Regions from separate parts of the Homo sapiens genome. Here region 2 is linked to region 1. The links come from fine-mapping of genetic effects on gene expression. A gene starts in region 1. The other region holds a variant in brackets. All regions are shown on one strand. Distances are from middle to middle. Region 1 holds the start of HEATR4 (HEAT repeat containing 4). Region 2 overlaps HEATR4 (HEAT repeat containing 4).

Evidence for each region.
Region 2: its variant is fine-mapped to the expression of HEATR4 in nasal epithelium (TOPMed, PIP 0.93).

What each region holds. Positions count from the first base shown.
Region 1 is chr14:73,552,822-73,563,249 of GRCh38, reverse strand. HEATR4 (HEAT repeat containing 4) reads left to right here and starts at 4,303. Exons shown (of 18, transcript NM_001220484.1): 1 at 4,303-4,499. RefSeq lists enhancers at 3,302-3,471, 8,968-9,480.
Region 2 is chr14:73,504,623-73,516,207 of GRCh38, reverse strand. HEATR4 (HEAT repeat containing 4) reads left to right here. Exons shown (of 18, transcript NM_001220484.1): 6 at 1,974-2,177; 7 at 4,059-4,202; 8 at 6,735-6,896; 9 at 7,914-8,074; 10 at 9,637-9,741. It also overlaps a transcript of ACOT1 not described here. Among named protein-coding and RNA genes, the nearest start is that of RIOX1, 19 kb to the right of the region's middle. The variant A/G (reference allele first, on the strand shown) is at 5,978.

The sequences.
Region 1 (10,428 bases):
CCCAATATTTCAACGTAGGTTCCTTCTATTTTCTATAAGAGTCGGCCGGCTGACAAATAGAGACAGTACAAAGAGAGGAATTTTACACCTGGGCCGCTGGGGGTGACATCACATATTGGTAGGACCGTGATGCCCACCTGAGTCTCAGACCAGCAAGTTTTTATTAAGGGTTTCAAAAGGGGAGCGGGGGTAAGAACAGGGAGTGGGTACAAAGATCGTATGCTTCAAAAGGCAAAAGCAGAACCACTAATAAGGTTCTAACAAAGATCACATGCTTCTGAGGGAATAGGACAAAGGGCAAAAGCAGAACCACTGACAAAGGTCCAACAAAGATCACAAGGCAAAGGGCAAAAGCAGAACCACTGATAAGGGTTGTGTTCAGCGGTGCATGTATTTTCTTGATAAACATCTTAAACAACAGAAAACGGGGTTGGAGAGCAGAGAACCAGTCTGACCACAAATTTACCAGGGTGGAGTTTTCCCAACCCTAGTAAGCCTGAGGGTTCTGCAGGAGACCAGGGCGTATCTCAGTCCTTATCTCAACGGCACAAGACAGACATTCCCAGAGCGGCCGTTTATAGACCTCCCGCCAGGAATGCATTCCTTTCCCAGGGTATTAATATTAATATTCCTTACTAGGAAAATAATTTAGTGATATCTCTCCTACTTGCACGTCCGTTTGTAGGCTCTCTGCAAGAAGAAAAATATGGCTCTTTTGGCCCGACTCCGCAGGCTGTCAGACCTTATGGTTGTCTTCCCTTGTTCCATAAAAATCGCTGTTATTCTGTTCTTTTTCAAGGTGCACTGATTTCGTATTGTTCAAACACATGTTTTACAATCAATTTGTACAGTTAACACAATTATCACAGTGGTCCTGAGGTTATGTACATCCTCAGCTTACGAACATAACAGGATTAAGATATTAAAGACAGGCATAAGAAATTATAAAAGTATTATTTGGGAACTGATAAATGTCCATATTAAGATGAAATCTTCACAATTTATGTTCCTCTGCCGCGGCTCCAGCCGGTCCCTCCATTCGGGGTCCTTGACTTCCCACAACATTAAACAATAACTCCTTATTCCCCACTGCCACCAGCCCCTGGCAACCACTATTCCACTTCCTGTCTCTGAATTTGACTACTTTAGGTACCTCATAAAGTGTAATTATACAGTATTTGGCCCTTCATCTCTGGCTTATTTTGCTTAGCATATTGTCTTCAAGGCTCATCCATATATTTACAGCATATCATAACTTCACTCTCCCCAGGAATTTTGCTCTGTCACCCAGGCTCTGGAGTGCAGTGGCAAGATCACAGTTCACTGCAGTCTCAACACCCAGGTGCAAGCAATCCTCCCATCTCAGTCTCCCCAGTAGCTGGGACGACAAGCACGTGCCACCTCACCTGGATACTTTTTAAGTTTTTTGTAGAGATGGGGGTCTCACTTTGTTGCCCAGTCTGGTCTTGAACTTCTACATTCAAGCAATCTTCCTACCTCGGCCTCCCAAAGTGCTGGGATCATAGGCATGAGCCACCTCACACAGCCATTTCATTCATTTTTTTTGAGACAGAGTTTCACTCTTGTTGCCCGGCTGGGGTGGAGTGGTGCAATCTTGCTTGGCTCACTGCAACCTCCTGGGTTCAAGTGATTTCCTGCCTCAGCCTCCCCAGTAGCTGGGACTACAGGTGTGTGCCACCATGCCCAGCTAATTTTTGTATTTTTAGTAGAGACGGGGTTTACTGTGTTGGCCAAGCTGGTCTCGAACTCCTGACCTTGAGTAATCTGTCCGCCTCAGGCTCCCAAAGTGCTGGGATTATAGGCGTGAGCCACTGCACCTGGCCCATTTCATTCCTTTTTCTTTTTTTTTCTTTCTTTTTTTTTGAGATAAACTCTCGCTCTGTCGCCCGGGCTGGACCACAATGGCGAGATCTTGGCTCACTGCAACCTCTGCCTCCTGGGTTCAAGAGATTCTCCTGCCTCGGTCTCCTGAGTAGCTGGGATTACAGGCGCCTGCCACTACGCCTGGCTAATTTTTGTATTTTTAGTAGAGATGGAGTTTCACCATGTTGACCAGGCTGGTCTTGAACTTTTGACCTCAGGTGATCCACCCTCCTCGGCCTCCCAAAGTGCTGGGATTACAGGCCTGAGCCACCACGCCCAGCCCATTTCATTCCTTTTTAAGGCTGAATAACATTCTGTTGTATGTATCTTCCACATTTTGTTTATCCATTCATTCACTGATGGACATTTGGGTTCTTTCCACCGTTTGGCTATTGTGAGTATGCTGCTATGAACATGGGTATACAAATATCTGTTAAAGTCCCTGCTTTCAATTCTTTTGGATATGTACCCAGAAGTAGAATTGCTGGATCACATAGTAATTCTATATTTAATTTTTTGAGGAACCTTCAACAGGGTTTTGATTTATTAGAAACAGGGTCTCCCTCTGTCACTGAGGCTGGGGTGCAGTAGTGCCATCATAGCTCACTGCAGCCTCAAACTCCTGGGCTCAAATGATCCTCCTGCCTTAGCAGGGTTATAATGTTTAATTTTTTTAGTATTTAATTTTCTTTTTTTTTTTTTTTGAGATGGAGTCTTGCTCTGTCGCCCAGGCTGGAGTGCAGTGGCCCAATCTCGGCTCACTGCAAGCTCCGCCTCCCGGGTTCATGCCATTCTCCTGCCTCAGCCTCCAAGTAGCTGGGACTACAGGCGCCTGCCACCACGCCTGGCTAATTTTTTTGTATTTTTAGTAGAGATGGGGTTTCACCGTGTTACCCAGGATGGTTTAAATCTCCTGACCTCGTGATCCGCCCAACTTGCCTCCCAAAGTGCTGGGATTATGGGCGTGAGCCACAGCGCCTGGCTCAGTCTTTACTTTTCATAACAGAAAACGTACCCTCTGCTTTTTATGGGGGTCTAACCATCTGAGTGCAGCTTGAGCTCAAGTGCTAAAGTCCATATTCAGGTTGGTCAGCAGCAGCAGTCTTGCTTGGAACCAAGAGATGGACCACCTGAATAGCATGACCTGGGTCAACGAGACAGAGCCTTAGGCCCAGAAATCTTTCCTGCTGTCAGGATAAATTAGTTTGTTTCACAAAGGGACTCTTGAAGATCAGAATTTCTGTATCTGTAAGACTTCTATGACTTAAAGAATTTCTGTACGTGTGAAATTATACTATTAGAAATACAAGATTGAAGAGTCTCCTTGTAAAAGCTAGTGTTAATGGCTAATAATCTAGCCAGGATTTAGAGATCAGGGAAAATGGGATTGAACTGTGTGGGCAAAGGAGATTAAGTAGCAGTGGAGGAGCTGAAAGGGGAATGGAAAAGTCGACGGACAGCTTCTACTTTACCATCTGTTTTATCAGCCTGGTAATCTGACGCCTGCCAGAACTATGTGGTCATGTGTTCCCTGCTTTGCCTCTTTCTCAGGATTTATAAACCCTTGTGGTGGGAGAATATGGAGCTGCATATATCTAGAGGGTTTTTTTATTTTTATCTTTTGAGACTGCACTTCACTCTTGCTGCCCAGGCTGGAGTGCAATGGCCTGATCTTGGCTCACTGCAACCTCTGCTTCCTGGGTCCAAGCGATTCTCCTGCCTCAGCCTCCCGAGTAGCTGGGATTACAGGCATGCGCCACCAGGCCCAGGTGATTTTCTTTTTAAATTTTCTATTTTTAGTAGAGATGGGGTTTCACCATGTTGGTCAGGCTGGTCTCTAACTCCTGACCTCAGGTGATCCGCCACCTCAGCCTCCCAAAGCGCTGAAATTGCAGGCGTGAGCCATCGCGCCTGGCTGAGGTTTATTTTTCAAAGAATGACCAAGAGGCTAGGTGTGGTGGCTCACAGTTGCAAATCCCAGCACTTTGGGAGGCCAAGGCGGACACATCACTTGAGGTCAGGAGTTTGAGAACAGCCTGTCCAACATGGTGAAACCCCATCTCTACTAAAAGTACAATTAGTGGGGCATGGTGGTGTGGCCTGTAATGGGAGGCTGAGACAGGAGAATTGCTTGAACCTGGGAGGCACAGGTTGCAGTGAGCCGAGATCGCACCACTGCACTCCAGCCTAGGCAACTGAGTGAGACTGTCTCAAAAAAGAAAAAAGACCAAAAACTCCATGAAACTACCATTCAATAAATAATCAATAAATAAGATGCAATTTCTCAAAGCTCAGTTTACAAAGAAGGAAATTTAATAAATGGTTGAAGATATACCCCCGACTGAACCCACAAGTTCTCTGAGTAGACTCATGGAATTCTAAAGAGTTGGTTGCTTGGAGACTGATAGAAACAGCTTTGGAACCTAAGAAACCAAGGAAGGCTTAAGATGCAGAACCTTGCTTCTCTCTGAGGACTGCCTTTTAGGAGGCCATTTGGAAAGTAATTTTGAAACACTGCTCCTTTGCCAGTATCTGAAAGGTGCTGGATGGTGTCAGCTGGAAGATGAGGGGCAACCTGAGGTAGCTGAAAAAACTTTGGATTAGGTGTCAAAAGGGTCAGTACTACTTTAGATACCAAGCAGTATGGTGATCTTAATGATTTCTCTTCTCTCTGGGCCCCAGTTTTGGGATTTATAAAATCAGGACATTAGGCCTGGTGCAGTGGCTCATGCCTGTATTCCCAGCATTTTGGGAGGCCAAGGTGGGAGGACTGTTTGAGTCCAGGAGTTCAAGACCAGCCTGAGCAACATAGTGAGACTCTATCTCTACAAAAAAAAAAAAAAAAAAAAAAATTTAACCGAGAGTGGTGTGCTATGTGCCTATGCTCCCAGCTATGTGGGAGGATTGCTTGAGCCCAGGAGGTCAAGGCTGCAGTGAGTCATGATCACGCCACTGTACTCCAGGAGAGTGAGACCCTGTCTCAAAAAAAAAAAAACAAATCAAGGCATTAGACCAGGTCATCTTTATAGCAGAGTTTCCAGAGTAATCTCTGGAGATAGCTGTATAGCTGTGTGAGTGCATGGTAAAAAATTAGAAAGTAGAGGGGAAAAAATGAGGGGAACTTTTTGAGGGCAAAAAGGGAGAAAGGGGGACTTGAAACAAGCCAGGTTAAGCAGCTGTTCCCTAATCCCACTCTCCCCACTAACCAGGCTTCCTTCATACACCCCACTGACACCCTTTGGGCTGTGCTTTCTTTAAATGTATTGTGTATTAAACCTGAGAGCTTGTGAAAATGCAGATTTCTAGGCCTCACTTGCAGGCTACTGAATCAGCATTCTGGGAGTAGGACACAAGAGTCTGATGTAAAAGGTTCTTTACCCATATCTATTCCAGGCATAGTCCCAGCATTTCTGGAGGCCAAGGCAGGAAGATCACTTGATTCCAGGAGTTTGAAACCAGCCTGGACAACATAGTAAGACCCTGTCTCTACAAAAAAAAGTTTTAAAACATTAGCCAGGCATGGTGGTGCACACCTGTGGTCCCAGCTACTGGGGACGCTGAGGCAGGAGGATTGCTTGAGCCTGGGAGGCAAGGCTGCAGTGAGCCATGACTGTGCCACCGCACTCCAGCTTGGGTGACAGAGTGAGGCCCTGTCTCAAACATAAATAAATAAACAAAAAACTGTATCTAACAAACACCACCCCAGAAGCTGACTGCACACTCTTGGACTCCACCTCAGAACTTCAGAATCCAAATCTGTTGGTAGAGATGAGAGTATTATTTTTTTAAAGCTTTCAGAAGATACTGATACTAAGGCTTATTGCTTTTTAGTCTTTTCTTTCAAGGCAGTTTCCTCTATTTTAATAACAAGGGAGAATGCAAGATATTACTCCTTTTAGCACATGTTACTCAACCTACTTTGACCACTTGTACAGGATAAAGGTATCAGACCAGAGGGTGAGGGTAAGCGACTGATAAGCAAACAGAAAAGTGGAACTAAATTTGGAATCTCTGAGATACTACCCAGTTTGAGTTGAGTTCTGTATTCATAAAATATTAGAGGCAGGAGAGGAATTTAGTCCAACTCCTACGTTTTCCAGCTGGGGATCTAGGAAGTTCATCAGGTTTTAACTAGAGGCATGTGGCCTAACCCTTCCAACCCCATTCCTCCCCTTCTAGCCCAAGTTCCTAGAAATGCAGATAATGCTGGTGGGTTGCTCATTCCAGGGCCTGGTCTGCAGTTATGCCAGGATTGACTTAGTCAATTTTTTATGCTGTCTATGTACAAAAGGACCCCGGACCTGCCACTCTGCTTTTGGTTCTAGAGGGCTATTTGTTGGGAGTGGGGTGCTGCCTCATAATGCTGGTCACGTAATGTGTAAGTTTCGATAATAAGGAGCCTCCAAACTCCATTAATAAGTCCTTTCTTTCTTCTCTAAGCACCCTCTCTTTTAATTGCTGAGTACCCCATAGCCCTAAATTCTTCCCGAAGCGCCCAGTGCATCTAACTGTAGGACCCAGAGACTTGCCTTCTAAGGACAACAGTCCATCCTCTAAACTAATAATAACAATTCCTCACACATATATTTTAGTTTGCAAAGAACTTTCATACGTTTCTAATTTTGAGGTTCATATCAATCAACACTAAATTAGAACAGGTATCAGACTCAATTTTCAGATTGGGAAACTACAGATTTCAAATTATTTGCCCAAGGTAACATGACTGGGAAGTGCACAATTTGGCCTTACACCTGTCCCGTGACTCCAAGACAGACAAAGACAAGCCAGAACAAGCCTCTTTTGATCAGACCTTGTGTAACATTTTGTTCTGTCCCCATTCCTTTTCAAAACAGACCTATCATGTGTTCCCTTCCTTCTTAATAAGCCATCATATCGGATGATAATAACTATTCCTTAAGTTTTTTTTGTTTTTTTTTTTTGAGAAGAAGTTTCACTCTTGTCACCCAGCCTGGAGTGCACTGGTGTGATCTTGGCTCACTGCAACCTCCGCCTCCTGGGTTCAAGCGATTCTCCTGCCTCAGCCTCCTGAGTAGCTGGGATTACGGGTGCCTGCCACCATGCCTGGCTAATTTTTTGTATTTTTAGTAGAGATGGGGTTTCGCCATGTTGGCCATGCTGCTCTTGAACTGCTGACCTCTGGTGATCTGCCTGCCTCAGCCTCCCAAAGTGTTGGGATTACAGGCGTGAGCCACCGCACCCAGCCTCCTTAAGAATTTCTAATAATTGATAATGGTAATATGGTATTCTTTCTGGGATGTTTGCATTGTAACTAAAGATTCTTTATGTCAAAGGCTAAAGGGCATTTATCTGCGGACACCCTAAATCACTCCTTTTTTTTTGAGATAGAGTTTTGCTCTTGTTATCCAGGCTGGAGTGCGGTGGCACGATCTCGGCTCGCTGCAACCTCTGCTTGTCAGGTTCAAGCAACTCTCCTGCCTCAGCCTCCCAAGTAGCTGGGATTACAGGTGTGTGCCACCATGCCTGGCTAATTTTGTATTTTTAGTAGAGATGGGGTTTCTCCATGTTGATCAGGCTGGCTGGTCTCGAACTCCTGACCTTGGGTGATCCACCCGCCTCAGCCTCCCAAAGTGCTGGGATTACAGGCGTGAGCCACCCACCTAGCCAATCACTCCTTATAGGTAGTCATCTGGGGATGAAATGAGTCCTCATCCCATTTTTCAACTGTTTAGGATCAAATTGCCCCCTGCCTTAGAAGCAAGATGTGGACACACTGATGTGTTAGGAATGTAAAATGTTTTAGAAGAATATGCAAGGCAGGAGAATATTAATGTTCTTTTCATTTGACCATTCATACTCAACCAGTGAGGAACTCCTCTTAACAAGAATCTTATAAGACAGGTCTGATGTCAAAATCTCTCACTTTTTTTTTTTTAACTAAGAATATCCTTATTTCTCTTTCATGTTTGAAGGCTGTTTTTGCTGAATATAATATTCTAGATTGGAAGTTTTTTTGCTTCAGCACTTTGTCACCCCACTCTCTGCTTGTAAAGTTTCTGCTGAGAAGTCTGCTACCAGCCATATTGGAGCTCCTTTATGATGTTATTAATATGTCCTTCTTTTCTCTTGCTGCTTTTAGGATCCTTTTTTAGCCTTGACCTTTGAGAGTTTGATTATTATATGCCTTGAGGTAGTCTTATTGAGGCTGAGTTGGCTTGGTGTTTTATGACCTTCTTATACCTGTATATTCATATCTTTCTCTAGTTTTAGAAAGTTCTCTGTTACTATTTCTTTAAATAAATTTTTACATTGATCTCTCCCTCTACATTCTTTTTTTTTAGTTTAATCATTTTTATTTCAAGTTTATTTAAAAAATCATAAATGGGGTTTCATAATCCAAAGTTGAAACATTTATTCTTCATAGCTTCAGAATTTGACAAGCAATTGTAGACCATGCTTTCCAAATCCAGTCTTCTTTGCTATTTTTCAAATTTCTGAGATCTAGTATTAAACTGCTCCATTCTAAACGTATAGTTTCAGATAAGTATTGTACACTTGTTGATAAGGGTTTTCTGAAAACAGTCTATCAAATATAAAGAATGGTTTCTATCTAAGAATCAGCAGTGAGGGAAGAAATATCAAACACCTATCAAGAAATCAATTATTCATTTTAAAAGTAGCAGAACCAGTGCTGCTCTCTGTCATAAAGGAGAACATGTAAAATTTATTTTTATAGACTTTGGTAATATTTTATTCCCCACAGAGGCCTTCAATCCTACTTAAAGATATTTTACACATAGTAACCATCAGGATTTACTGAGTAAAAATCTCAGGTATTAACCATGCCCCTAAAATGTGCTATTCCAAAGAGGAACAGGTTACTTTTGAGGAAAAAAGCTGCCTTGGTAACTTACCTCAAATATTTATTTCAAATAAAAATAGTTGATGGAAATATTTTTTAAACGAACTTTGGGTATAATATGGCATACTGCCCATCAAACAAAAAAGGAAATCAAAACTTTCTTTCCATTTATAATAAGTTTTCCACTTTTACTATCAAGATTACAACTTATTGACCTTTTATGCTTGCTTGGTTTTTTTGACTGCCTAATCCAATATCTCGGCTCACTGCAACCACTGCCTCTCTGGTTCAAGCGCTTCTCCTGCCTCTGTCTCCTGAGTAGCTGGGATTACAGGCCCCCACCACCATGCCTGCTAATTTTTTTTATTTTTCATAGAAACAGGGTTTTACCATGTTGGGCAGGCTGGTCTCCAACTCCTGGTCTCTAGTGATCTGCCTGCCTTGGGCTCCCGAAGTGCCGTGATTACATGAGTAAGCCACCATGCCCAGCTGGCTAATTCTTTTGTGTACAGATTAAAGCAGAGGGGAACCTCATTGTCATGATAATTAAAGATCAAAACTGGCATGTTTGGGAAATTGGCTGTTATTTCTCTCCTGATTTCTCAGAAGGCCAGGTAACACTTCAGTTTAGGTTGGGTGAAACTTTAGCACAGGTGACGCCATTTTGGTTTTTAGTCTTGTCTATTGGGGCCTAGTGCTAGAGCCTAGTCCAAAACAATGGCCTTAGCGGGGCATGCTAGTGCATGCCTGTAATCCCAGCTACTAGGGAGGCTGAGGCACAAGAATTGCTTGAACCTGGGAGGCAGAGGTTGCAGTGTGCCAAGATTGCGCTGCTGCACTCCAGCCTGGGGGACAGAGCAAGACTCTATCTCAAAAACAAAACAAAAAAAAAGCAAAACAATAGTCTCCTATACTTTTTTTCATTCCCTTCAAGTGTATCCTCCACAGCAATAATTTTTATTTAACAAACCTAATACCCAATGTGATAATACTTTTTTATTTTAATTTTTTTTGGAGATCTAGTCCTGTTCAGTTGCCTAGGCTGGAGTGCAGTGGCGCGATCCCGGCTCACTGGACCTCTACCTTCTGGGTTCCAAGTGATTCTCCTGCCTCAGCCTCCCCCGTAGCTGGGATTACAGGCGAGTGCTACCAAGCCCAGCTAATTATTTTTTGGATTTTTAGTAGAGATGGGGTCTCACCATGTTGCCCAGGCTGGTCTTGAACTCCTGAGCCCAGGTAATCCGCCCACCTCAGCCTCCCAAAGTGCTGGGATTACAGGTGTGAGCCACCATGCCCAGCCTCAATGCGATAGTATTAAAAAGTGGGGACTTGGCACCTGGGGGAGAAGAAGGGGAGGCACAGGACCCCAGAAAGTGTCCTGAGCAGGAGGCTTGTGTCCTTCGGGGTGGGGCACCAGCCCTGGTGCTGACCTGTCCTTGCCCTGACCTAGGCCTGTCCTGCTGGGCCAGGCAGGGGCTATGGCAGATGAGCGAGACAAGGTGGCCAGGCCGTGAGCCAGGAACAGTGGGAGTCAGGAATGCCGAATAGTGTGTGCTTGGGTCGGGGAAACCCTGGATAGGACCCATGGGGGATGGAAGGGAGCTGGTGGGGGAGCTGCCCACACAGACAGGCCTGGGTGGCACCCAAGAGGTGTAGGGGTCAGGGGCCTCAGACTCATGGCATAAGACAGGCATGAGGTGTTG
Region 2 (11,585 bases), 48 kb after region 1:
CTTTGCTAAACTGCCCTGGAGTCTCACAGGACTCTTTTTTTTTTTTTTTTTTTTTTTTTTGATGACTGTTGATGTGGAAGATGGCTAGTGGATGTGTTTCTATCCAGCTATAACCCAAAGGACTGGAACCAAAGTAAAAGTTGGCAGTTGTATTTTTTATTCCTATGAGGTTAAATATCAGAGATCTAAGACTTGCTCACCGCAAATCCATTTTAACTCCTTGAGCAGAGGGATATAGGAGAAATGGGGTTAATTCAGCTACTTCTCATCTCTTCAGGAGGGATTTCAAATCGCCTGAGAGAAGTCGGGGAGCGTCACATGGCAAAGTGTGAGCTGGCCTGTCAGAGGTGGTTCCACAGCTCCTAGTTGCACACACCCTACCCCAGAAAGGAGGGAGGCCTCAGCAGAGTGGCTGAGTCCCCCAGCACGTCCAAGCTGGTGGGGACCATTTGGAGGAGATGCATTGTATGGGCATCTTTGCTAAACTGCCCTGGAGTCTCACAGGACTCTTTTTTTTTTTTTTTTTTTTTTTTTTTGAGATGGAGTCTCGCTTTGTCACCCAGGTTGGAGCGCGATCTCAGCTCACTACAACCTCCGCCTCCCCAGTTCAAGTGATTCTTCTGCTTCAGCATCCCGAGTAGCTGGGATTACAGGCGCCCACCACCACGCCTAGCAAATTTTTGTATTTTTAGTAGAGACAGGGTTTCACCATGTTGGTCAGGCTGGTCTCGAACTTGTGACCTCAAGTGATCCACCCGCTTTGGCCTCCCAAAGTGCTGGGATTACAGGCATGAGCCACTGCACCCCGCCTCACAGGACTCTTTTTACATTAGAAGAAAGAAATGTTATGTCTTCCTTGCTCAAAGGAAAGAATTGATTCAGAGCAAATCTAAAGGTGTTAAGAGTCAGAATGAAATCTTGGAAAAAAACAGAAATGGCTGATAGTGACTGATTAGAACATGAGACTAATAGGCAGTGTGAATAATGAATTTAGTACATCTGGAAATGTTTTTATCATTTTTCCCTTCCCCTTCTCCATAGAGCTTTTTTTCTGAGAAAGAGGCTTTCTAAATTTGACACCATGAAAAACATTAAGTTCAGAAAATATAACTATAGTTTTTTTTTTGTTTTTTTTTTTTGAGAACGGAGTCTCACTCTGTCGTCCAGGCTGGAATGCAGTGGTGCAATCTCAGCTCACTGCAACCTCCGCCTCTCAGGTTCAAGTGATTCTCCTGCCTCAGCCTCTCAAGTAGCTGAGACTACAAGCACATGCCACCATGCCCGGCCAATTTTTTGTATTTTAGTAGAGACGGGGTTTTCACCGTGTTAGCCAGGATGGTCTCGATCTCCTGACCTCGTGATCTGCTCGCCTCGGCCTCCCAAAGTACTGGGATTACAGGCAAAAGCCACCGTACCCGGCCAACTATAGCTTTTCTAACTATATCTAATATTTACGGCTTCTTCTGTTCTCAAATTTCTGTTGTCTTGAGGAAAAACTCAGAGATGTTAAAATCTTTAAAATTTCACAGCTTATAGCACTATTATTCTCCCCAAATTAAAAACATTAAAAGGAAAACTTAATACTTTAGAAATAATGGCCAATGACACTAAATTGCAACGTATCAAATATTATGAGCAAATCTCGTTACATATAAACATATTTATGTTCCTAAAGATTTAGGTTCCTAAAGATAACCTTTAAACTTATAGAAAGGTTTGTAGATATCTCAATTTCCCCCCACAAATCTCTCACCCCCATCATCATCATGGCTTACCATGTCTAGTCAGGACTTTCCATAATTCCCTGTGTACATGTACTCAGTTCCCCATATAATCATGGGGAAATTCACTCTTGAGGGTTTTGTTTTGCTTTGGTATTAGTCAGGAATAGGAATGGGATGCAAGCTGGGGCCACTGTGTGGCAGGGCCTAAGGCAGTGGGGTGAAAAGACCTCACACTGCCACGTTGCACAGCTTACAGACCTGTGCAAGGAGCCCTGCGCTGGACTGCTTTGCCCACCCCCGCCAAGGATATGCTGCTGCAGGTGGGTGAGAAGGATGTGCCTATTAAGACCAGGAGATTGAAGAAGCAGGCAAAATCACTGCAGGAGGATGTGACCTGGGAACTGGTGGTCCTGCGGAGGATGCTGAAGGAATGGAAGACTGCCTGGGCTCTGAGTGAGTGAAGGGAGGTCCTGTGATACTGTACGTTTGTGAGAAGTGGTTCTCATCTGGGACTAGGCTTTCTCAGTCTTTGAAAAATCCATCCCTCCTTTGTGAAATGTAAAAATCTGGTTGCCTCATTAAGGCTAGACAAGAGCCTTTCACACATTGGGTGTTAGATGAACTTCAGTTAACATATATCTGGGTGCTTTTTGCATGGATGGGTATTACTTCAGTAATTTGTGGAAACTCATTATTACACTGCAGACTCTTCAGAGGCAGAGACCATTTTTTTTTTTTTTTTTTTTTTTTTTTTTGGAGACGTAGTTTCGCTCTTGTTGCCTTGGCTGGAGTGCAACGGTGGGATCTCAGCTTACTGCAACCTCTGCTTCCTGGTTTCAAGTAATTCTCCTGCCTCAGCCTCCTGAGTAGCTAGGATTACAGGCACCCGCCACCACACTTGGTTAACTTTTTGTATCTTTGGTAGAGATGGGGTTTCACCATGTTGGCCAGAGTGGTCTCAAACTCCTGACCTCAGGTGATCTGCCCGCCTTGGCCACCGCGCCAGCCCTTTTTTCTTTTTCTGAGATGGAATTTCACTCTGTTGCCCAGGCCGGAGTGCCATGGCACTTGATTTGGGCTCACTGCAACCTCTACCTCCCAGGTTCAAGCGATTCTCCTGCCTCAGCCTCCCAAGTAGCTGGGACTATAGGCATGTGCCATGATGTCTGGCTAATTTTTGTGTTTTTAGTAGAGACACGGTTTCACCATGTTGGCCAGGCTGGTCTCGAACTCCTGACTTCAGGTGATCTCCCCGCCTTGGCCTCCCAAAGTGCTGGGATTACAAGCATAAGCCACTGCACCCAGGCGACCCTATCTTATTGTTTTCCAAACTTTATGCTCAGCAAATGATGTATGAAGGGAAGAACAAAATATGCTGTCCAACCATTGTCCATGTCATAGTTGACTATGGTATCAGCAACCCCTCTCCAAAATTCATTCGTAGAGTTGGGGCTATCCTATACCTACTTTGCCTTCAAAGATAGGAGAGTAGAAGTCTGAGTGCCTGGGACAAAGTAATGGCCTGGCAAGGACTGTTGAAAGCTATGGTATTTGAGAACTCAATAGCTGCTGGCTTTCAGAACATGATAGACAAGCTTAGTTAGTGCAGGAAAAAGAGAGGCAATCCATTAGGTAAACTGGATCAGATAAACAATAACAAAAAAGACTGAAGGAAACACCTACAGATAATAGGAGCTTTGAAATAAAAGTCTGATACCTGCCAAAAGAGTATTTAGCAACTAAAATGAGGAAGATGTTGAAAGCCAAATGGAAGTGCCCTCAAAGACAAAGAACCTAATGAAAACCACAATAGTTAACATTTATTGAACCTTCATTATCTTGCCAGGCATTTTGCTAAACACTTTGTCTAGTTAACTCATTTAACAGTAAGAATAACTCAATATGTGGGTTCTAGTATTATGCCTGTATTACAAATAAGAAATCTCAGGCTCAGGGTTAAGTAACTTATCCACAGTCACACAGCTAATAACTGTGATCCCAAACCAGGTATGTCTGAAAACAAAGTACTCTTAACTACTTTGTTTTATTGTCACTTTTATTTCCCAGATGGTTACAACGAAAAGTGATTTAAAGAAAGAGAGATAGATACGATGGGGTTGGGAGAAGTTTTGTCTGGGAACTTACTTGTGAGGGTACATGGATCATCAGAGAAATAACTCCCTAAAGACCCCATCTCTGGGCCCTTTATTCTTCTGAGCTAATGTTTTGCTTGAATTATTCTGGGTGAAGGGCAGACTTCTTGTCACCTGCCTGCAGCACAATATCTAACCCTAACCAGGTGGTTCTCTTTTCATTTCCCTCACTGCGGCTCAGTCATAGAGTGGCACCATGAGACAGTAGAGAACCTGCTTCAGAGCTTGGGAGACCTGCATGATGACGTTCGGATCAAAGCTATCACCACATGTGCCACAGCTGCTTTGGAACGGCCCCGGATTGCCACCAGCCAGAGAGACTCAGGTGAGAGCCAAAGCTGAACTGCTTGAGAACATAAGCAACTCATAAAGCCATGGAACATCTGAACTGGTAGGGACCCAGGGCTTATCTGAGATCATTTTACAAATGTGGAAACCAAGACTTAGAGACTGGCCTATATATACATGCTTATCAGCAATAGAGACGAGATTAAAATTCCAGACTTCTAGTCCAGTAATTTTTGAACTACATTTCATCACCTTTTGTTTGCTCAGTGGCCTGCAGAGAAGTTAACATTTCCCACCTTGAAGATCCCATTCTTTTTTGTTTTTGTTTTTGGTAGAGACTGTGTCTTGCTATGTTGACCAGGCTAGTCTTGAACTCCTGGCCTCAAGTAATCCTCCCACCTTAACCTCCCAAACTGCTGGGATTACAGGCGTGAGCCACTGTGCCCAGCCAAGAGCCCATTCTTTTTTATTTTATTTTATTTATTTATTTATTTATTTATTTATTTATTTATTTATTTATTTTTGAGACAGAGTCTTGCTCTGTCACCCAGGCTGGAGTGCAGTGGCGCGATCTCTGCTCACTGCAACCTCCACCTCCCAGGTTCAAGCAATTCTCCTGCCCTAGTCTCCCGAGTAGCTGGGACTACATACAGGCGTGTGCCACCATGCCCAGCTCATTTTTTTGTATTTTTAGTAGAGATGGGGTTTCACCATGTTGGCCAGGCTGGTCTTGAACTCCTGACCTCAAGTGATCCACCCACCTCAGCCTCCCAAAGTGCTGGGATTACAGGCATGAGCCACCGCACCTGACAAAATCTTAAAATATGATTCACGGGCTTAGCTGTGCCACTCCTTGGGCAGTCAGCTAACCTCTCTGAGCTTCAAATTACCTATCTATAAAATGAGACTAGTGGTAGACAAAGGGATAACAAACCTTTCCCCTTCCTACTTGAGAATTTGAACTTCAGTTAAATGCCCACCTGTTCCCCTAAACACCTGATAAGAACTATCTTTATAGGCAACATTGGTTATGATATAAATCCTGTTTGATAAATTACATTGGGACTGAGAAGAGCTATAAGTGAAATATAAATACTTGATAGGGACACCATAGTTTGGGCCTCCCTGGATACTGTAACTTATAACAGGCAGGCCCTTTGTGGACCCTAGAATTGTGTCTATGGAGTTTTTATAAGAGATATTAGTTCCTGTAAAGCATAAATTCACCCAGTGAATAAACAACATGCTCCTGTGCTGTCCCCAAGACTCTGTGGAATGCTCAAGACAGCCTCAAGAACTGCAGCCAAAGCCAGGTGTGGTGGCTCACACTTGTAATTCCAGCACTTTGGAAGGCCAAGGCAGGTGGATCACCTGAAGTCAAGGGTTCAAGACCAGCCTGGCCAACATGGTGAAACCTCATCTCTACCAAAAATACAAAAATTAGCCAGGCGTGGTGACAGGTGCCTGTAGTCCCAGATACTCGGAAGGCTGAGGCAGAAGAATCGCCTGAACCCAGGAAGCAGAAGTTGCAGTGAGCCAAGATTGTGCCATTGTACTCCAGCCTGGGCAACAGAGCAAAAACTCTATCTCAAAAAAAAAACAAAAACAAAAACAAAAAAACTCCAGCCAACAGGGATGCCTGATGCTGCTGCCCTGTTGACAAACTATGCTCCTGTCCCATATTCTTCTGGTGCCATGCATGGCCCATGACAGTCTTATGAACCTTACTGTTTAGTTGAACCAAAAAAGACTCCCTAGTGAGCTCTACAATGATACCTACCTTGCCTAATTCAACCAAGGTTGAAAGATAAC[A/G]AGATAATGTAAAAACACTATATTATAAAGCACTACCTAAATATAATTGTTCTTACAAATATAAAGGCTCAGCTGGGGGCGGTGGCACACGTCTGTAATCCCAGCACTTTGGGAGGCTGAGGCAGGTGGATCACAAGGTCAGGAGATCGAGACCATCCTGGCTAACACGGTGAAATCCCATCTCTACTAAGAATACTAAAAATTAGCTGGGTGCCTGTAGTCCCAGCTACTCGGGAGGCTGAGGCAGGAGAATGGTGTGAACCCAGGAGGCGGAGCTTGCAGTGAGCTGAGATCACACCACTGCACTCCAGCCCAGGTGACAGAACAAGACTCCGTCTCAAAAAATATATAAAATAAATAAATATATATATATATATATATATATATATATATATATATATATATATATATATATATATGGGCTCATGGGGCAAATTGGTTGCTTTTAATCACTAAAACTAATGGTGTAGTTCACTGTAGCCTAGCTGGAAACATTCTTCTTCGGCTTAAATATAGCTGTTTAGAGGCCAGATGATAAAGGATTGGGAATTGGCATACCAGCACACAGGTGAGCTTTAACACCTTGAGCAGAAAATCCTGCCCATCTGAAGGGCTCAGCTAAACTGTAATTATATTACATAGCACTAAGCAACTGCAGCTGGGACTGAGGTTGGCCACCACATGGCTGTAGGAAGGAAGCTGTGTGTGAGAAAAGCAAAGGGGCTAGTACTCTCTTACCTGGCTCTTTTGATCACAGACAAGACCATCCAGGACTTGCCGGAGGTTCTACTGCCTGCCCTAGAGGCTGCTCTTTGTGACAAGAATGCCCATGTGCGGATGGCAGCAGCAATATGCCAATATGCCATACAGTCACATAATCCCCTTGCCCGGAACATCATGCAGACTGCCCTTCTGAAGGGTGAGTAACTCCCTGTTACTTCTGACCTGGAAATATGGGATAGACATCTCACTATCAGCTTTCCCAGTCCTTTCCTCTCCACTGTGATGCTCTGCAATGTCTGCTGTATTGGGTTTAGATTTATGTTAGACCATTTGAAAATTAGGACCAGACACTGTCGCTCACACCTGTAATCCCAGCACTTTGGGAGGCCAAGGCGACAGGATCACCTGAGCATAGGAGTTCTAAACCAGCCTGGGCAACATAACAAGACCCCATCTCTATAAAAAATTTTAAAATTAGCCAGGTGCGGTGGTGTGCTCCTGTAGACCCAGCTACCTAGGAGGCTGAGGCAGACCTATATATACATGCTTATCAGAGTCAGCTTGAGCCCAGGGGGTTGAAGCTGCAATAAGCCACAATGGTGCCACTGTACTCCAACCTGGGTGACAGAGCAAGACCCTGTCTCTAAAAAAAAGGAAAAAAAGAAAATTTGCTCTTTCTAGGTACTTTAACAAAACAGGTACACTGCCACCAAGTGGTAGCTGGACTAAATTTTTTTTTTTTTTTTTTTTTTTTTTGAGACAGAGTTTCACTCTCGTTGCCCAGGCTGGAGTGCAATGGTGGGATCTCAGCTCACACTGCAACCTCCGCCTCCTGGGTTCAAGCAATTCTCCTGCCTCGGCTTCCCAAGTAGCTGGGATTACAGGCGCATGCCACCACGCCTGGCTGATTTTTGTATTTTTAGTAGAGATGGGGTTTTACCATGTTGGCCAGGCTGGTCTTGAACTCCTGACCTTAGGTGATCCGCCCACCTTGGCCTCCCAAAATGTGAGGACTACAGGTGTTAGCCACCGTGCCCAGCCAATATGATTCTTCTCAATATGGTTTAAATAAGAAATTGTATTTCTAGACTGAGTGGGGCACAAGGAAGTGAGATATCAGGTGGGGTAGCAGCCTTGGGTATCAATCCAAAGGCTGTTCTCTAGGGGGAAAACACATCACCATTCTGAACTCTTTTTCACCCAACTGTGGCAGGTAACAGTGTGGATAGCTGGGCTGCAGCTCAGTGCTTGGCTCTGGAAGGTACTGCTACTTACCCTGTGATTAAGAGGATCCTCCACCAGCTGTTTACAAAGAAGAATGAGGACACTGAGGAACAGTCTTATATCCTCCTGAGCTATCTGAGTGAGAAGACAGTATGTGTCCATTACCGGGTCAGACACAGTTTTGGGGAGCAATTAGGTCTTTGAGGTCAGTGAATGTAAGCAATCTGAAATGCAGCTGGGGCCGGGGCAGTGGCTTATGCCTGTAATCCCAACACTTCGGGAGGCCGAGGCAGGTGGATCACTTGAGGTCAGGAGTTCGAGACCAGACTGGCCAACATGGGTGAAACCTCATCTCTACTAAAAATAAAAAAATTAGACAGGTGCAGTGGTACCACACTGAGTAGTCCCAGCTACTCGGGAGGCTGAGGCATGAAAATCACTTCAGCCTGGGAGGTGAAGGTTGCAGTGAGCTGAGATCACGCCACTACACTCCAGCCTAGGTGACAGAGCAAGACTCTGTCTCAAACAAATAAAATAAAATGCAGCTGGGCTGGGCATGGTCGCTCACGCCTGTAATCCCAGCACTTTGGGAGGCTGAGGTGGGAGTATCCCTTGAGTCCAGGATTTCAAGACCAGCCTGGGCAATATAGTGAGACCCTGTCTCTACAAAAAAAGAAATAAAATTAGTCAGGCATGGTGGTATGTGCCTGTAATCCTAGCTACTCAAGAGGCTGAGGTGGGAGGATCACTTGAGCCTGGCAGGTTGGGGCTGCAGCGAGCTGAGATCACACCACTGTACTCCAGCCTGAGCGACAGAGCAAGACCCTGCCTCAAAAAATTAATTACACAATTAATTAATTAGATAAAATGCAGCCGGTTGGGTTGACAATCTCAAGCATAAGTAAACGTAGAATAAGCATGAGTAAACCTGGGTGTAGAGGTGTATACAAAGGGAAGTCACAATAGTTAGCTGAGAGAAAAGTGAGAATTAGGTTGCAAATGGTCTCTATTTGCATATGCAAGAAGAGTTCTGACATGTAGAATTTGCTTCTGCTAGAAGTTTACCATTGAAAACTGCAGAGGCCTATATTTGTGTTTAGTTACTTTCAATAGAAATGTGAAAGTCATAAGCTTGAGGCATATAAAAATCATTTTAGGGGTAAAAACAGTTAAAGACAGAAGGCCGGGCACGGTGGCTCACGCCTGTAATCCCAGCACTTTGGGAGGCCGAGGCAGGCAGATCACCTGAGGTCAGGAATTCAAGACCAGCCTGGCACCAACATGGTAAAACCCCGCCTCTACTAAAAATACAAAAATTAACCGGGCGTGGTGGCAGGCGCCTGTAATCCCAGCTACTTGGGAGGCTGAGGCAACAGAATCACTTGAACCCGAGAGGCGGAGGTTGCAGTGAGCCGAGATTGTGCCACTGCACTCCAGCCTGGGGGACAACCTTCTCAGAAAAAAAAAAAAAAAAAAAAACAGTTAAAGTCAGGAAAGGAAGGTCCCAGTTTTCTGTTTAAGTTATTAAATTTGTATTTTGTTCCCCAATTTATGATCCCAGAGTCAGTTGGCTGTGATGGAAACATGCCCCATCTCTTGTAAGCCCACTGGTGACATTAATTATGCAGGATGCCATTTCAGAATGTAACTTCAAGGTTCTAGTATCTCTAAAAGTGATTGTGAATATCCATACAAGTCTTCCATTTCCTCAGACCCTGATACACACCATGCTTGCTGTGGAGCTGAACAGCTGTCAATGGAAGAACCGGATTGTGGCCTGCCAGGCTTTCTCCCGGATCAGTGGAAATGTCTGCTTGGTAAACCTCTTTCTTTGCCTCCAGGACAGAAAGCCTAAGAGAGGCTGAGCTACAGAGGCCTTCTACTTTTTGCTGCTATGTATTATTCCATTCTTACCAAACAGATCTCTGTTCCCACATCACTACTTCTTACTTCTAGCCCAGAATTATCTTCAAATGCTAATATGTCTGTCTGGAAGCCAATGCTTCTCAGTGCACTGGTGGTCCATAAACTGTTGGTAACTGATCCACAATGAAATAGCACAAAAACTGACAGGAGTTTAGAAACGTTTATAGTAGGCCGGGTGCGGTGGCTCACATCTGTAATCCCAGCACTTGGGGAGGCCAAGGCAGGCGGATCACGAGGTCAGGAGTTGGAGACCAGCCTGACCAACATGGTGAAACTCCATCTCTACTAAAAATACAAAAATTAGCAGAGTGTGGTGGCACGCGCCTATAATCCCTGCTACTTGGGAGGCTGAGGCAGGAGAATCGCTTGAACCCAGGAGGCAGAGGTTGCAGTGAACCAAGATCTCACCACTGCTCTCTAGCCTGGGTGACAGAGGGAGACTCCATCTCAAAAAAAAAAAAAAAAAAGAAACGTTTATAGTAATTTGATATTGCCTCAATATCAACAGACTTTATCAGTCAATGACATATTTCCCCCCCGCCAAAATTGGTTCTTCATCAAAGATCATTCGAGAAGCACTGACTTAGACTACCCAAAAACCCATCTAAATGAGTGTCTGTGCTGCTTCTCAGAGTGTTCGGCACACACATATAAAACATAGTCCCGGCCGGGCACGGTGGCTCACACCTGTAATGCCAGCACTTTGGGAGGCCAAGGCAGGTGGATCAGAGCTCAGGAGTTTCAGACCAGCCTGGCCAACATAGTGAAATCCTATCTGTACTAAAATACAAAAATTAGCCAGGTGTGGTGGCTGGCACCTGTAATCCTAGCTACTTGGAAGGCTGAGGCACAAGAATTGCTTGAACCTGGGAGGGAGAGGTTGCAGTGAGCCGAGATCGCACCACTGCACTCCAGCCTGGGCGACAGTGCGAGACTCTGTCTCAAAAAACAAAACAAAAAAAAACAAAACAAAAAAACCATTGTCCCAACTTTCACAAAATTAACACTATGGTAGGAACAATAAGACTAATATACACAAATGATTCAAGAACAAGCAATAAATATAAGGTACCCTTTTAAAACTTTTCAGAGAGAGAGAGATTAGTGTGGGTTAAATTTATTGGTTAAAGTTCTGTGAAGGGGTCCGGTACGGTGGCTCATGCCTGTAAGCCCAGCACCTTGGGAGGCTGAGGCGGGTGGATCACTTGAGACCAGGAGGTTGAAACCAGCCTGGTCATCATGGCAAAACCCCATCTCTAATTAGCTGGGCATGGTGGCACACACCTGTCATCCCAGCTACTTGGAGGCTGAGGCAGGAGAATCGCTTAAACCTGGGAGGCGGCGGTTTCAGTGAGCCAAGATCGTGCCACTGCACTCCAGCCTGGGCGACAGAGCGAGACTCCATCTAAAAAAAAAAACAAACCAACTGTCGGTGAAGATGGTGGGGCTCAGCTAGAACTAAAGAGGGAATTCCAGGCAACACTTCGTTTTTGCCATTATTTCCCAATCATCTTCAGCTGTCCAAATGGGAGCTTTCCCTTCTTCCTATGTGCTACTTCATCTTTTCCTTATAACTTTGGATATCTCCAGAATAGCCCAGAACATTGCCATTCCCATGATAAGTGAACAACCTCCACTCTGTAACCCTGACATTTTGATATGGGAAGCACAAAATCTGGCCACTCAGTACAGTAATCACCTGAAAAGGTTTTGGACTTGGGTTAGTTCTGTCTCA